Linked DNA regions of Homo sapiens. The protein of the gene in region 2 interacts with the protein of the main gene of each other region in a biochemical or structural test. Each region holds a gene or a part of one and is shown on either strand. Other genes may lie near its edges.

Evidence for each region. Proteins that work in one complex are often made in the same cells at the same time.
Region 1: the proteins of UNC13A (region 2) and UBXN10 form a complex in vitro, tested with the Homo sapiens proteins (one study listed by BioGRID).

Annotation. Positions count from the first base shown.
Region 1 is NC_000001.11:20,189,096-20,196,095, forward strand, and holds the end of UBXN10 (UBX domain-containing protein 10), read left to right. Parts: intron 1-1,451; 5' UTR 1,452-1,466; coding exon 1,467-2,309; 3' UTR 2,310-6,955; downstream 6,956-7,000. UniProt on the Homo sapiens protein: VCP/p97-binding protein required for ciliogenesis. Acts as a tethering factor that facilitates recruitment of VCP/p97 to the intraflagellar transport complex B (IFT-B) in cilia.
Region 2 is NC_000019.10:17,678,322-17,685,441, reverse strand, and holds part of UNC13A (protein unc-13 homolog A), read left to right. Parts: intron 1-7,120. UniProt on the Homo sapiens protein: Plays a role in vesicle maturation during exocytosis as a target of the diacylglycerol second messenger pathway.

The DNA of each region.
Region 1 (7,000 bases), on a different chromosome or scaffold from region 2:
AGTGATTGCCCCTTGATCAGGTAGCTAGCCAGTGGCAGAGAAGCTGAAATTGAACCCACACTTTGTGACACCTGGTCCTCTGTCCTTTGCTCCCAAATATGCTGTTTCTTGGGGACCATGAATCACTGGAAAGTCACCAGAAGGTCTTTAGAAGGCTAGGAGAGGCCAGGTCAGCTTTCAAGCAGAGAAGGCAGGAGTCACAGTGGTGGTCAGGATTCAGAGGGAGGCAGGGAGCCCAATAAGATGTCTGCAATGTTTAGGGAAAGATGGAACTGGAGATTGGGAGGAGGAGGTGCTGGTAGTAGTGTTAGTGAAGTGGCCACCAAGATGGCAATGAAAGAGGAGGTGTCATGGTTTAGCAATTCCGGGTCTGCACAGAGAAATGTTCACGCCTCCCACCATGCTTCAGTTCATTGCTCCTGGTGGATTTAACCAGCACTCACACAGACTTTTGGTGGGAGATCCAAATACAGAGGCCCCAGGGTGCCTATCGGGTAGCTGGGAAGACAGAAGTCTGAACAGCTCGGGAGGCTGAGGCACAAGAATTGCTTGAACCTGGGAGGCGGAGATTGCAATGAGCTGAGATGGTGCCACTGCATTGCAGCCTGAGTGATGGAGTGAGACTCTGTCTCAAAAAAGAAAAAGAAAAAAAGAAAAAGAAAAAAAGAAATGTGAGCAGCTAGCAGACATACAGAATGTGATGTGCTGGGCTCAGGAAGCAGCTTGTATGGGTACAGAGGACACAGGATCGGGTGTCACAAGACCTGGGTCCTATCTCCAGCTCTGCCACCAGCTGGCTGTGTGACCATTGGGAAATCACTCTACCTTTCTGGCTCATACATCTGTAGAATTAGCATGCGCCCAGAGTTGCTGTAGGACAGGGACCAACAAATGATGGCCCACAGCCCAAATCCGGCCCGTCACCTATTTTGTGTGGCTCATGAACTAAGAATAGCTTTCACATTTTTAAATCATTGAAAAAGAATCAAAAGAGAGTATTTTGTGACACATGAAAATTATCTGAAATTCAAATTTCAGAGTCCAAAAATGAAGTTTTACTGAAACACAGCAGGTTTTCTGGTTTTTACCAGAAACTTCCCCCCTCCTAAAAGAATAAGAATTAGTCCCCCACCTTAATCACGCTCTGGTGCAATAATTTTTATTTTCTTCATAGCGGTTGTTACTCTTTGAAAATATCTATTTACTTGTGGGTTTTAACCCCTGTCTTTCCTCACTATAATAATTTACATTGCAAGGACTTCGGTTTGCTGATCTCTCGCAAGTGCCTAAAATAAATGAATGCATGCCTGAATGAATAAATTGCAGCTGGTGCCCCTTACTAGATGCCAGAAATTTGTGCTTATTCTGGGCACTCAGGGAGGGAATGGCTTGGATCTAGGAGTCCCAGGAAGTTTAACCCACGGACTCCTGTTTTTTTCCTGCTTCCTTAGGGGTCTTGAGAAGCAATGGCCACAGAAGCCCCTGTGAATATAGCACCACCTGAGTGTAGCACTGTTGTCAGCACAGCAGTTGACAGCCTCATTTGGCAGCCAAACTCACTAAATATGCACATGATAAGGCCCAAGTCCGCCAAGGGACGGACAAGACCGAGTCTGCAGAAATCCCAGGGCGTGGAGGTGTGCGCTCATCATATACCATCTCCGCCTCCAGCCATTCCCTATGAGTTGCCAAGCAGCCAAAAACCAGGAGCCTGTGCACCCAAATCTCCAAACCAGGGAGCTTCTGATGAGATCCCTGAGCTGCAGCAGCAAGTACCCACTGGGGCTTCCTCTTCTCTCAATAAGTATCCAGTCCTTCCTTCCATCAACAGAAAGAACCTGGAGGAGGAGGCTGTGGAAACCGTTGCCAAAAAGGCCAGCTCACTGCAACTGAGCAGTATCCGGGCTCTTTACCAAGACGAGACGGGCACCATGAAGACAAGTGAAGAAGATTCCAGAGCTCGAGCTTGTGCCGTGGAGAGGAAATTCATCGTCCGAACCAAGAAACAGGGCTCTTCCAGGGCTGGAAATCTGGAGGAACCATCGGACCAAGAACCAAGGTTGCTGCTTGCTGTTAGATCACCAACAGGCCAAAGGTTTGTACGCCATTTCCGGCCAACAGATGATTTGCAAACCATTGTTGCTGTGGCCGAACAGAAAAACAAAACCTCCTACCGACACTGCAGCATTGAAACAATGGAGGTGCCCAGGAGGCGATTTTCTGACCTCACCAAATCTCTGCAAGAGTGCAGAATCCCCCACAAGTCTGTGCTGGGCATCTCACTGGAAGATGGGGAAGGGTGGCCCTGAGTCCACAGCCACCCAGCTGAGGTCCTGGGTCTCTGAGCAAAGGAGCATGCTTGGGCGTTGTGGCCTCTTAGGCAGCCTGTTTCAAGTGCCATGTGGACCTGGTGCAGCTGGGAAGCTTGGGACTCTCGTCTGCACTGCGTGTCCTCTGAAGCAGTGAAGTCTGTGCCTATGCCGAGCGCGCTAAGAAGTCTCCCTTCCAGCTGTTCCATTCTCTCCACCACCAGCGTAACTGGCAAGTTACCAAGGTTGTTCCTGAAACAGCAGTGATCATGACTTCTCCTTTCCAGAGTTTTGGGTCCTTCTGAATTAATGGTCCTTTTCGAACACCGGCTTGCCTTTACAGTGAACTGTGATTCTCTCGAAGCCAATGCTTTCCTGTCTGTATTTGATGCAGGATTAAACACTTCCCAGAGAGGATTCTAGTCTGGTAAATAACCACAGTGTAGGAACTATCTAACTGGCATTTGTGTTTCTTGCGAGTATTTTGAAGAAACAGGCCGTTGACCCCATCTTTGGAAGTAGCCCTTTACCATGCATGGTCAGTTTCTTAGGGATTTACTATTTGTGTGAGGTGGCATCTAAGGGAAGAATGGGTTTTCTTCCCCAAAACATCAGCATTTCTAAAATAGTCCTAAAGCTTGAAAGTAAGTTGCTTCCATGAGCATGGATTACCCAGTAGCTACTTTTTAATAGAGACTGACTAGGTTTACAACTTCTGGGAGCTACTCTGTGGGCTGAATTCTTCCAAAACCGAGAAAAGCCAGTGCAGTCTGATTTCTTTTGCTTTTGTCAGTAATGGAATCTTTTGTTTTTAAAATGTACAAACCTATAAGTTTAAACAGGTTTGTACTGACAACCTCCTTGGCTTATTTGGGGGTGGAGCAATTGTTTTATTCCCCAGTTTCAGTGCGTTGCCCACTTCAAACATGGTGTGTCCTTTGGAGCTGTGACAGAGGTGCCTGTTCTGACTTAGAACCTCTGGAGGAGGAGGGGGGTGCCTTGGTCTCGTGTTACTTTGCTGTGCCTGTGCTGAGAGACCATGTGCCCGAGCATCTGGTTGACCGGCATGAAGTACATCAGCCTGTCTTAGCCTGAGCTGCTTTGAAGACCATGGGGTCTTGTGTTTCCAACTTCGAAGTGCTGATGTGGACAGTTTGCCAATGTTCTCTTCTATTGCAAGTTCAGCCAGACTCCATGACTCATCTGATCCCTTTTATGGCCAAATCATCCTTCAGAGTAGGGAACACTCAGACATTCTGTGCATGTTGTTCCCCCAAAGCATGGTCATCACAAAGTCCTGAGTTCTGGTGTGTGCTCCCGCCTCCTGGGTATACAGAGAGAAGGCAGGAATCAGGAGTTCCAGAAGCATATACATGTGGCTACCCCAGCAACAAGCGCATCCTGTGCTCAGATAAGCTGCATGGTTGGGAGTGTTTTTTCTCGCACGTTGAGGCTTAGTGGAGATGGGCACCACTGCCATTTGCTCAGAAGAAGGCTGGTCTGGTCCTAACTGCATCCCACACTGCCCAGATCATTCTAGAATAGGTTATTTCTGAATGTTTTATAGAATTTCTTAATACCATCCTGGTTTGGTCAGCCATTCCTTTGATTGGAAAGGTCAGCTGGGGCCAGTGGTGCCTCAGGCAGGCCCACACAACTGGCCACCTCTTCCCGTTAATGACCACAGCAGACAGAATTTGAGCCCAGCACCTAAAAGTACAGGAATTTCACTTCCCACCAGGACTTGAGCACATAACTCTATGTCTGATCTAGGAGGCTGGGGGAAGAGCCTCCCATAAAATCACACCTACTCTGTGGTAAGAATAAAATCCCACCCACCTGGGACTTGGTAATTTCTCCAGACAGGAAAGCTTTAGAAAACTTGAGTGAAATGGAGCAAGCTTGAAGGAGTTAGAATCTTCTGTGCTTAGGGTTTGCTGCTGCTGGTGAGCTTAGAATTTTGGGGTTGGGAAAAAGTGGAAGGCATAAGCATAGAAATATTTTAGGATATTTTAGGATATGTGAATAAAGCTAGACTCAAACCATCATAATAAACATTTTTTTTTTGGACAAAAGATGATACGATAAAAACCAACTTGTGTGAAACTGAGTCAGTGGAGAAGTGCATCTCGTATTTTAACCTAAGGCTTCAGCTCCCACACACGACTGGACAGAGGGGTGTGTTAGCCTGATCTTCAGTTTTCTCATTGGGAAAGCACTTGTTCCACTGTTAGAACCAAGTCCTCCTCCCCGGACACTTCTGATGCCCACTGCAGAAGCGACGGGGCTCCTGCTCTCAGCTTCTGTCACAGCACTTAGCTTGTCTGGATAAGAGTCACCTGAATTTTTCCTAAACATCATTCCAAGTACTCTGATTTTGGGGATTGGCAAGAACAAACTAAATCAGAATTCAGAGTTCCTGATGGCTCCACATGTTGCATTGCAGCTGAGGCCCCCTGTCCTAAATGGGCTCAACCGGCCTAGCACACTCCTCTTGGTGGCTTTGGGTGGGTCAGCCTTGCCCAGTTTGGGGTCATAGACCTCAGTTATTCATTTAACCGATGGCCATTGAGGGCTTACCCAGTGCCACACTTTGAGACAAGCATGGGTGTCCTGAAAAGAAAGTGTTGGCAAGAAAACATGAACCCACCATTGGACTCTCAACTCAAACCTTACTGAAGTCAGTGGCTATAGCTTTATCTGCAAAGGACCCCAAAGTGAGGATCCCACATTGTTACTGCTGGCTCTTCATCCCACCCTCTGGAGATGCTAAGGAAGCTCTTGCCCACCTTTTCTAGTGATGGAGTAGGAACTTTGCATAGGACAAACCTTCATGATAGGTTACTCTAGTATATTCCCTCATAAAGTCCAATAGGTAAATTAGTCTTGGCAGCAGAAGGAACAGCAGGAGAAGTAAGTGATTCATCATCTAGAATCCAGAAAATTTGCACCAACAGATGGCAGGTGGTTATAACACAACAGATCTTGCCCTGAGAATATCTGGGGACCCAGCCAACAGCCTTCAAGGCAGGGCACTCCTGCGGAAGAGATGGCTTGTGAACATGACTGTGGACCCAGAGTCACCCCAGAGCTCCCATATAAAATGCTTCACAGAGAAACTAAGAGCAGCCTTGGGGCATTCATTCCAATTAATAACCTTAAAGACTAGAGCCAGATCCACCTGCATTACAAAAGCAGGCATTCGAGGAACTAAACTTTGCTTTTGTTCATGCTCTTACCTGCCGTTTTAAATGGGTTTCTAATGTCAAATAAAGCCACCCTGCCTCTTGGGACAAAGATGTTTCTCTTTACTTAGTTTTAAAAATAAAATCCTCATAATAAGTTCGGATAAAAGAGACTTTTACATGGTAAGAGGATCTACTTTTCTACCTTTTAAACGGAATAAAGAAGACAGCTATATTATTTTGCTTTAGCATTAGTTTAGAAGTCATTCCAAGAATTAAGCAGGAACATCTGTTTTCTCAGTCCATTAAGGCAACACCCCACAGTAAAGTTAAAAGTTCACGAGCCTATTGACTCTCATCCAGAAACCAGAACCAACCAAACCCCACCATATAACAGGGAAGGCCTGAGGTCGCTTCGGAGGAGTTAGCAATCAAAGGAGAACAGACTTTTGGTGACTCAGTTACCAACACACAACACTCATAAAACTAAAATTAGGTGTTTTATTTTTTGTCTACACGGGTGGCGTGCCACTTTCCTTTCCTGATTAGGGAAGCTTCTCCCAGCCCTTTCTGACGTTCATCTGTGTGCCTTTATGTTCAAACAGTTTAGGAAGCAGCAGCCCTCCTAACAGTCGACGCGGAAGCACAAATCTCTGGAGGTATTTTTGGACACACTTAAATCCTATCCCAAGAGACTGAACGACTGTGGTGACAAATGCCCACGGGTAAAACTGAGCAAGCCTCATTCAGACTGTCCTGCTCAGAGGCGCCCTCTGGCTGCCGTGTTGAGGGGCTGGGGTGGAAGATGGAAGACTTGAGTGCTGGAGGTATGAAGGTGACCAGAGAGAGGTGATGGTGGTTCGGGCCAGGGTGGTAGCCAGAGATGTCATGAGAGGTGGCCAGATTCTGGACATATAATCCATTTTCTTAAGGAGAAAAAAAAGGATAGTTTGACAAGTTGGGATTCACCCAGGTGGACTTAGCTTGACCAATATCGCCAACGTGGATTGTTTCTGCAAAAACAAACAAGCAAACAACCACCACGGCAGCAAAGCACATGGCAGGCAGGGGAAAGACACTGACCAGCAGGAACATTCCCATCAAGGAAATGCACGAGTGTTTTTGGACAAAGTGTACAGAGAAAATCAAAGCTATTCATTGTTTTAATTAAGAGATAAAACTAAGGTCACTGTTTCACTTAATGTTGAGATATAAGTTAAAAGTATCATCTACCTCTAGGGGTATGATATGACTGCTGACCAAGGTTACTTAATAAGAAATCCTTGTTCTAGTTAAATACACTGTTTATCTCTATCTCCTGTCCTTCATCCCTCCCTTTCTTGCCACCCTTCCCTCCATTTATTCCAGTCCAGCAGCTGACTGGGGATGCATTTCTTCTTGGGAAGGCAAACAAAGCCATCATTCTGGGGCTTAATTAATAAAGCTCCTAGTTTCATAGTTTTCATGCTCACCTCGTGTTTATATGAGGGGATCTGTGCAGTGGGG
Region 2 (7,120 bases):
GTGGGCAGATCACTTGAGGTCAGGAGTTCAAGACCAGCCTGGCCAACATGGTGAAACTTTGTCACTGCTAAAAAATAAAAAAAATTAGCCAGGTGTGGTGGCGCGCACCTGTAGTCTCAGCTACTCGGGAGGCTGAGGAAGGAGAATCACTTGAATAGGGGAGGTGGAGGTTGCAGTGAGCTGAGATCCTGCCACTGTACTCCAGCCTGGGCAACACAGTGAGACTCTGTCTCAAAAAAAAAGATTCACTCATGTCCTAACACTCAGACATGTACCCATACATATCTGTTAAGGTCCCCAACCCCATGAAGCACATATATATTCATATAAGCACATGTCAAAGCCATGTGTGTATGCACATGACAACACTTGCCTGGACATTCAAAGCAGCCCCTTTCAACAAGTGGATGATGATGCATACAAGTAAATACACATTTGAGTATTTCATTGCACACAAGTGCATACATGTATGCAGATAAACAAATACAGCTGCCACAGAACTGCATCCATGTACACATGCAAACATCAATATGTGTGTTTTCCACCTAACATATCACCCACAAGCTCACACACACCAGTGTGTCTCTGATGTAGTGACACCCCACTCCTAGACACACATGTGCAGACTCCCACCTGCACTTAAATGGTGCACATACTCTGCACACATGCACACTCATATCCATGTAGAGGCAGGCACCTGCCTGCCCTGGTAAGATGAGCCAACTACTGCTGCAAATACCCAAGCAAGTACAGGCAAATGCAAGCTCTTGTGTATACACCCAGCACCAACACATAGCAGACCACCCTGTATGGTGTATGGGCCTTATCTCTGCCCGCTTCATTTATTTATTCATGTGGTGCCCCGCTGCTTCCCAACATCGTAATCCACTGACTAGGTCTTGGCAGGATCCTGAGGCTGTGAATGGTAAATGCCACCTGGTTCCTTCATGAAGTCACTTATTTTATTTATGCAACAAGCATTAATTGAGCACCTACTGTATACCAGGCACTGTTCCTGGCTCTGGGACCCAGCCCTATTCCTAGCCATCACTCCTGCACGTCCCATGGGGTTAGAATGAAAGAGATGAGGGAGGGCTAAGGGAGCTGAGGAGTGGGGTATCCAGGGCTCTCTTCCTCTGGGAAGCCTACCCTGATTCCACCACCACCATTTACTTGAGTCTCAGAAGATGTGATGAGGGGGAGATGAGCAGGAGGGAGATGGTGCTCTGGGTGGAGGGAACAGCATGAGCAAAAGCATGGTGGTGTGAAGGGTTACTTCCAGATCTTCCTATGTGCCTCACAGCATTTTGCACAGGCCACTTGATGTTTTGTTTTGTTTTGAGACAGAGTCTCACTCAAAGCCTGTTACTCAGGCTGCAGTGCAGTGGCATGATCTCAGCTTGCTGCAGCCTTGACCTCCAGGGCTCAAGTGATCCTCCTGCCTCAGCCTCCCAAGTAGCTGGGAGTATAGGCATGCACCACCACACCCGGCTGACTTTTTTCTTTTTAATTTTTTGCAGAAGCAGGGTTTTGCCCTGCTGCCCAGGCTGGTCTTGAACTCCTGGGCTCAAGTGATTCACCCTCCTCAGCCTCCCAAAGTGCTAGGATTACAGGTGTGAGCCACCACGCCCAACTGATGTTTTAAAGGCTCTATAAACATGTTATGAATAAATGACATGAACAAATCAGTGAATTTAGGTGAGGGTGGGTTTGCTTCACAACTTACAATAATATCAACAACAAACCCCATTTATCCAGCTTTTTTGTTTGTTTGTTTGTTTTTTGAGACACGGTCTCACTCTGTCACCCGGACTGCAGTGTAGTGGTGTGATCTCGGTTCACTGAAACCTCCACCTTCCAAGTTCAAGCGATTTTCCTGCCTCAGCCTCCCGAGTAGCTGGGATTACAGGCACGTGCTACCACACCTAGCTAGTTTTTGTATTTTTAGTAGAGATGGGGTTTCTCATCTCTACTAAAAATACAAATACATCTCTAGTGGCCAGGCTGGTCTTGAACTCCTGACTTCAAGTGATCCTCTTGCCTCGGCCTCCCAATGTACTGAGATTACAGGCTCGAGCCACCGTGCCCAGCCCAGCATTTCATAGGCATGATGTTAAGGATTTTTATGCCCATGCCCTCTTTAACTCTTACAGTAGCCCCATTGTACAGATGAGGAAAACTGAGGCTCAGGGAGCTTTAACAACTTGCCTGGTGGAACAGAGCCAGAGGTGGAGCTGACTGACTCTAGAGCCTACTGGGGTTGGCAGAAGTTTGAGCCTTCTCTCAGACCCCAGGACCTCGGAGACAGCCAAGTCCCTTCTGTGGAGTGATGTTCTGCCCTGGGATTGCCTTCTTCTTTCTATTTATTTATTTATTGGAGACAGAGTCTGGCTCTGTTGCCCAAGCTGGAGTGCAGTGGCACAATTTCAGTTCACTGTAACCTCCTCCTCCCGGGTTCAAGCAATTCTCCTGCCTCAGCCTCCTGAGTAGCTGAGATTACAGATGCACACCATCATGCCCAGCTAATTTTTTGTATTTTTAGTGGAGATGGGGTTTCACCATGCTAGCCAGGCTGGCCTCGAACTCCTGACCACCAAGTGATCTACCTGCTTTGGCCTCCCAAAGTGCTGGGATTACAGGCATGAGCCACTGTGCCCAGCCAGGATTGCTTTCTTCTCTCATGCATCTAGTAAACAGACATGTCACAATCTCTCCATTCATCGGGGCTATTCCCCTGCTCCTTGCCTAAGAAGCCTTCACACATCCCTCCGTTCCTGGCTACTCAGTCCCTGATACCCTCCAGCTAGGAGGAGCTGCATCTAGGTCTTAGCTCCTACCGTTCTCATGGGATGCCCTCCAGAGTTGCATCTTCAGGGCTGCAGCCTAACCCTTTCCCTAACCTGGCCTCACTTTTCTTCCACATACAATGGACCTCTTCTGCAAGGTGCCAATAAGGGCATCCTGGGTCCAGCAGGCCTGAGTGTGAATTGCTAAGTCCACCACTTCCTGGCAAGTCTCACATCCTCTGCATTCCTTGGTGTGCTCATCTGTGGAATGGGCACAGGAGTAGCATCCACCATCTACGTTTGCCAGAACTCTCTAATGAGGCTTGCAGAGCCCCTGGCATGACTCCTGGCCTACGGGAAGGCCCAATAATCGTGAGCAAAAGACATGAAAAATCAATGATGGGCCGGCCCCGGTGGCTCACGCCTGTAATCCCAGCACTTTGGGAGGCCTAGGCGGGCAGATCTCCTGAGCTCAGGAGTTCAAGACCACCCTGGGCAACATGGTGAAACCCTGTCTTTACTAAAATACAAAAAAATTAGCTGGGTATGGTGGCGCGCGCCTGTAGTCCCAGCTACTCAGGGGGCTGAGGCACGAGAATCGCTTAAGCCCCGAAGGCGGAGGTTGCAGTGAGCCGAGGTCGCGCCACTGCACTCCAGCTTGGGCTACAGAGTGAGACTCCGTCAAAAAAAAAAAAAAAAAAAAATCAATGATGATGTTTTTATTAATGGAGACTAAAAGCTTTCTGGAAGGCGGTTCTGAGTGCAGGACATTTCTGAGAGTCCACTGCATTCTGGGGCCCGAGGAGCGCTCCAAGAGGGGTCCCCCAGGGCCACTCCAGGAGGGAGCCTAGTTCGTTGAGGGTACACGGGTGGGACCGAGCATTCAGCACCGTGGACAGCGCCTGCCCGCGCCTCTGGGGGACAGCTCTTAGCTCAGCCTCCCAGGATTAATGGAGGAGGTGACGTCATTCCTTCCGTGAATTACTATTTAATGAGCACCTACTATAGGCTAGGCCTACTTCTAAGTGGTTCATGGTAAACAACACACACACAAATCCCTTATTCCCGAAGCTCTCTGGAACTCCAGGTTCTTGGTGTTTTTTACACTGAAGGCTCAGTCTGGCTCTGGTCTATTTGTGTCAACGGAGGATAAGGGTCCTCATTTAGTGTCTCCCAGATGCGAAACCAGCACAGCTGAGGTCTTTTATCCTAAAGCCCATCCATCTCCCGCTGAAATGCCCTCCACCAACATCACACACAAAACGATCAAATCTCCTATAATCTATTTCTGGATTCTCTATGCTTCCTCCCTTCCCCCAAGCTAATCCTGGGGCGGGTGGGCTTTCAGAAGCCCTAGACGGCTGGATCTCCACCTCCTGTCTCCCCACCCCATCCCACGTGGCAGGTCAGGGAGCCAGTGCCCCAAGACTGCAGTCCCCCCTAATTAGAATCCAGGGTCAGTCAGCCATGTGGTTCACGCCTGTAATTCCAACACTTTGGGAGGCCGAGGGGATGGCTTGAGCCTTGAAGCCAGCCATAGCAACATAGCAAGACCCCATCTCTACAAAAAAAAAAAAAAAAAAAAAGGAATAGCCAAGCATGGTGATGCGCACCTGCAGTCTCAGCTACTCGAGAGGCTGAGTGGGGAGGATCGCTTGAACCTGGGAGATCGAGGCTGCAGTGAGCCATGATCACACCACTGCCCTCCAGCCTGGAGCCTGGGCAACAGAGAGAGACCCTGTCAAAAAAAAAAAAAAAAAAAAAAAGAAAAGAAAAGAAAAAAAAAGAAGAAGAAGAAGAGAAAAGAAAGAAAAAGAAAAGAATCCAGGGTATTCAAATCCTAGAATCCAGGCCAGGGACACCTTTAGAACACAACCAAATAATAAAAACAGTAAAGATATCAGTAATAATAATAATAGTATAAATGACACTATAATCATTCTGCAGAAGGGGTGAGGGAGGAAGAGGAGGGAAGAAGAGGAGGAGAAAGGAGAGGGAAGGGAGATCAGCCACTCCGTCTCCCCATTTTCCAGATGCAGAAACGGAGGCGCGAAGCCAGGCTGCAGGGGTGTCCCGCAGCCTGAACTCCTGCCTCAGCCTCCCCGGGTACGGCCACTACATTCATCAGTCAGCGCTTCTGGGGGCCCCAAAGACCTTTGAGGCCGCATGACGCGGTGTCTTCACCCGCTCGTCGCTGGGGACAGCAGTGGGCACCCCCCTCATCCCCGCCCCCCTGTCCGCCGGCGCGCCTCCCACGCCCTCCGCGCGCCCACGCTATAAATAGCCTCATGCGTGTGACCCGAAGCCCGCTGGGGAAGGGTGGCGCTTCCGCCCCGCTGACCCTGATACAGCAACCCGGCGCAGGCGGGGAGGTGGCGGGATGTGACGACGAAGACGGTGACTCAGGGACCATTTACTGACCGGGGAAGACAGGGAGAGAGACTGGGTTCCTTCTCTGAGCCCCCTTCCTCCTCCAAGCCTCTCCCCCGATACCACCCTCCCCTCTGCGCCCATCCCCCTTCCCGAATCCCCTCCCTCACCGCGAACACCCTTCCCTCCTGAGAACCCCCTCGCCACTCTCGGCCCCCTTTCCTGTCCCCTTTTCCCTCTGAGACCCCTCTCCCACTGGGAGCCCCAGTGATGAAAAATCATGGATGTCCTCAACCTGGACCTCGGCAGGGAGCTAAGTGCAGGAGCCTGGCTTCAGCTATCAGAGGGTACAGCCCTCCAGCCGGTCCCCCACTGCCTGAGGACCCCAACGGAGACCATTCCCCTCTAGCCAAGAGAGGCTGCAGGAAGGAGCTGAGGCTTAGGGAAGAGGAGCCGGACTGACCAAGGGAGGGGCACAAGAAGGGCAGAGACAGTGAGAGAGAGAAGGAGAGAACAGAGACCAAAAGAAGACGACCAGAGTGGAGAGAAATAGAACGGGGAGGAGGGAGATGAGAGACAGGGATTGGGAAAGAGAGAGAGAGAACAGATCAAGGAGCTACTGGGCTCCCCGCTGAGCCTAAATCCATGGTTTATAAAACAGGGCACAGTTGGAGGAGCTTCAAGTGAGCCCAGCCCAGTCTAGACCCCAGTGAGCCCCTTGTATCACCCCCCAGAGCCTGTCACTTTCCCACCCCCATATGCATCCCTACTTTTCTCCCCCAACTGCCTCTCCTCTCCCCAGTGTCTCCTCCACCTGCCTGCCCTCCCTAGTGGAAATCTTTCCCCCTCTCTCTTTTATTATTATTATTATTATTATATATTTTTTGAGACAGAGTCTTGCTCTGTCGCCCAGGCTGGAGTGCAATGGCGTGATCTTGGCTCACTGCAACCTCCGCCTCCTGGGTTCAAGCGATTCTCCTGCCTCAGCCTCCCGAGTAGCTGGGACTACAGGCGTGCACCATCATGCCCGGCTAATTTTTGTATTTTTAATAGAGATGGGGTTTTACCATGTTGCCCAGGCTGGTCTCGAACTCCTGACCTCATGTGATCCACCTGCCTCGGCCTCAAAGTGCTGGGATTACAGATGTGGGCTACCACGCCCAGCCTCTCTCCCTTTTAAATTATTATTTTTAGACATGGGATCTTACTACATTGCCCAGGCTGGTCTTGAACTCCTGGGCTCAAGGGATCCTCCTGCCTTAGCCTTCCTAGTAGCTGGGATTACAGGCATGTGCCTCTATGCCTGGTACTCTCGCTGTCTCCTTGTGTCTCTCTATTTCTCTCCATCTGTCCAGACTCTCCTCTCTTGCTTTCATGCCCATCATTTCTTCCTCTCTCCTCTCCCTTCCTCTCCCTGTATGAGTCCCTCCAGCTGTGGGTGCCTTTCTCAGCCTCTGTCAGCATCCCCTCCACCCCCGATCCCGTCACATTCTACCTCTTGCCCCTTCCCCTGCCCACCCCCTTCACAGAGAGTCCCCACGCCTGCAGGCTGGACCTCCTCCAGGAGCCAGGCCCAAAGCTCCTGCTGGGCACATTCCTGAGTGTTCCTGAGCCTCTTTCAGTCCCAGGGGTGAGGTGCTGGGTGGGTGCGCTCCCTGGGGGCTGGGTGGGGCTGAGGATGTGAGCGAACAAACCAGACCTAGAAAAAAAAAAGACAGAGATGGAAGCAGAGATGAAGGCCCAGAGAGAGGGGTTCACTTGCCCAGGGTCACACAGCTCAGGAATCTGAACCTGGCTCAAACCAGCATTCACTTCTCTCAAGGCCCACCCAAGGGCTGCAGTGCAGTGGCACAATCTCAGCTCACTGCAACCTCTGCCTTCCAGGTTAAAGGGATTCTCCTGCCTCAGCCTCCCGAGTAGCTGGGATTAGAGGTGCGTGCCACCACACCCGGCTAATTTTTGTT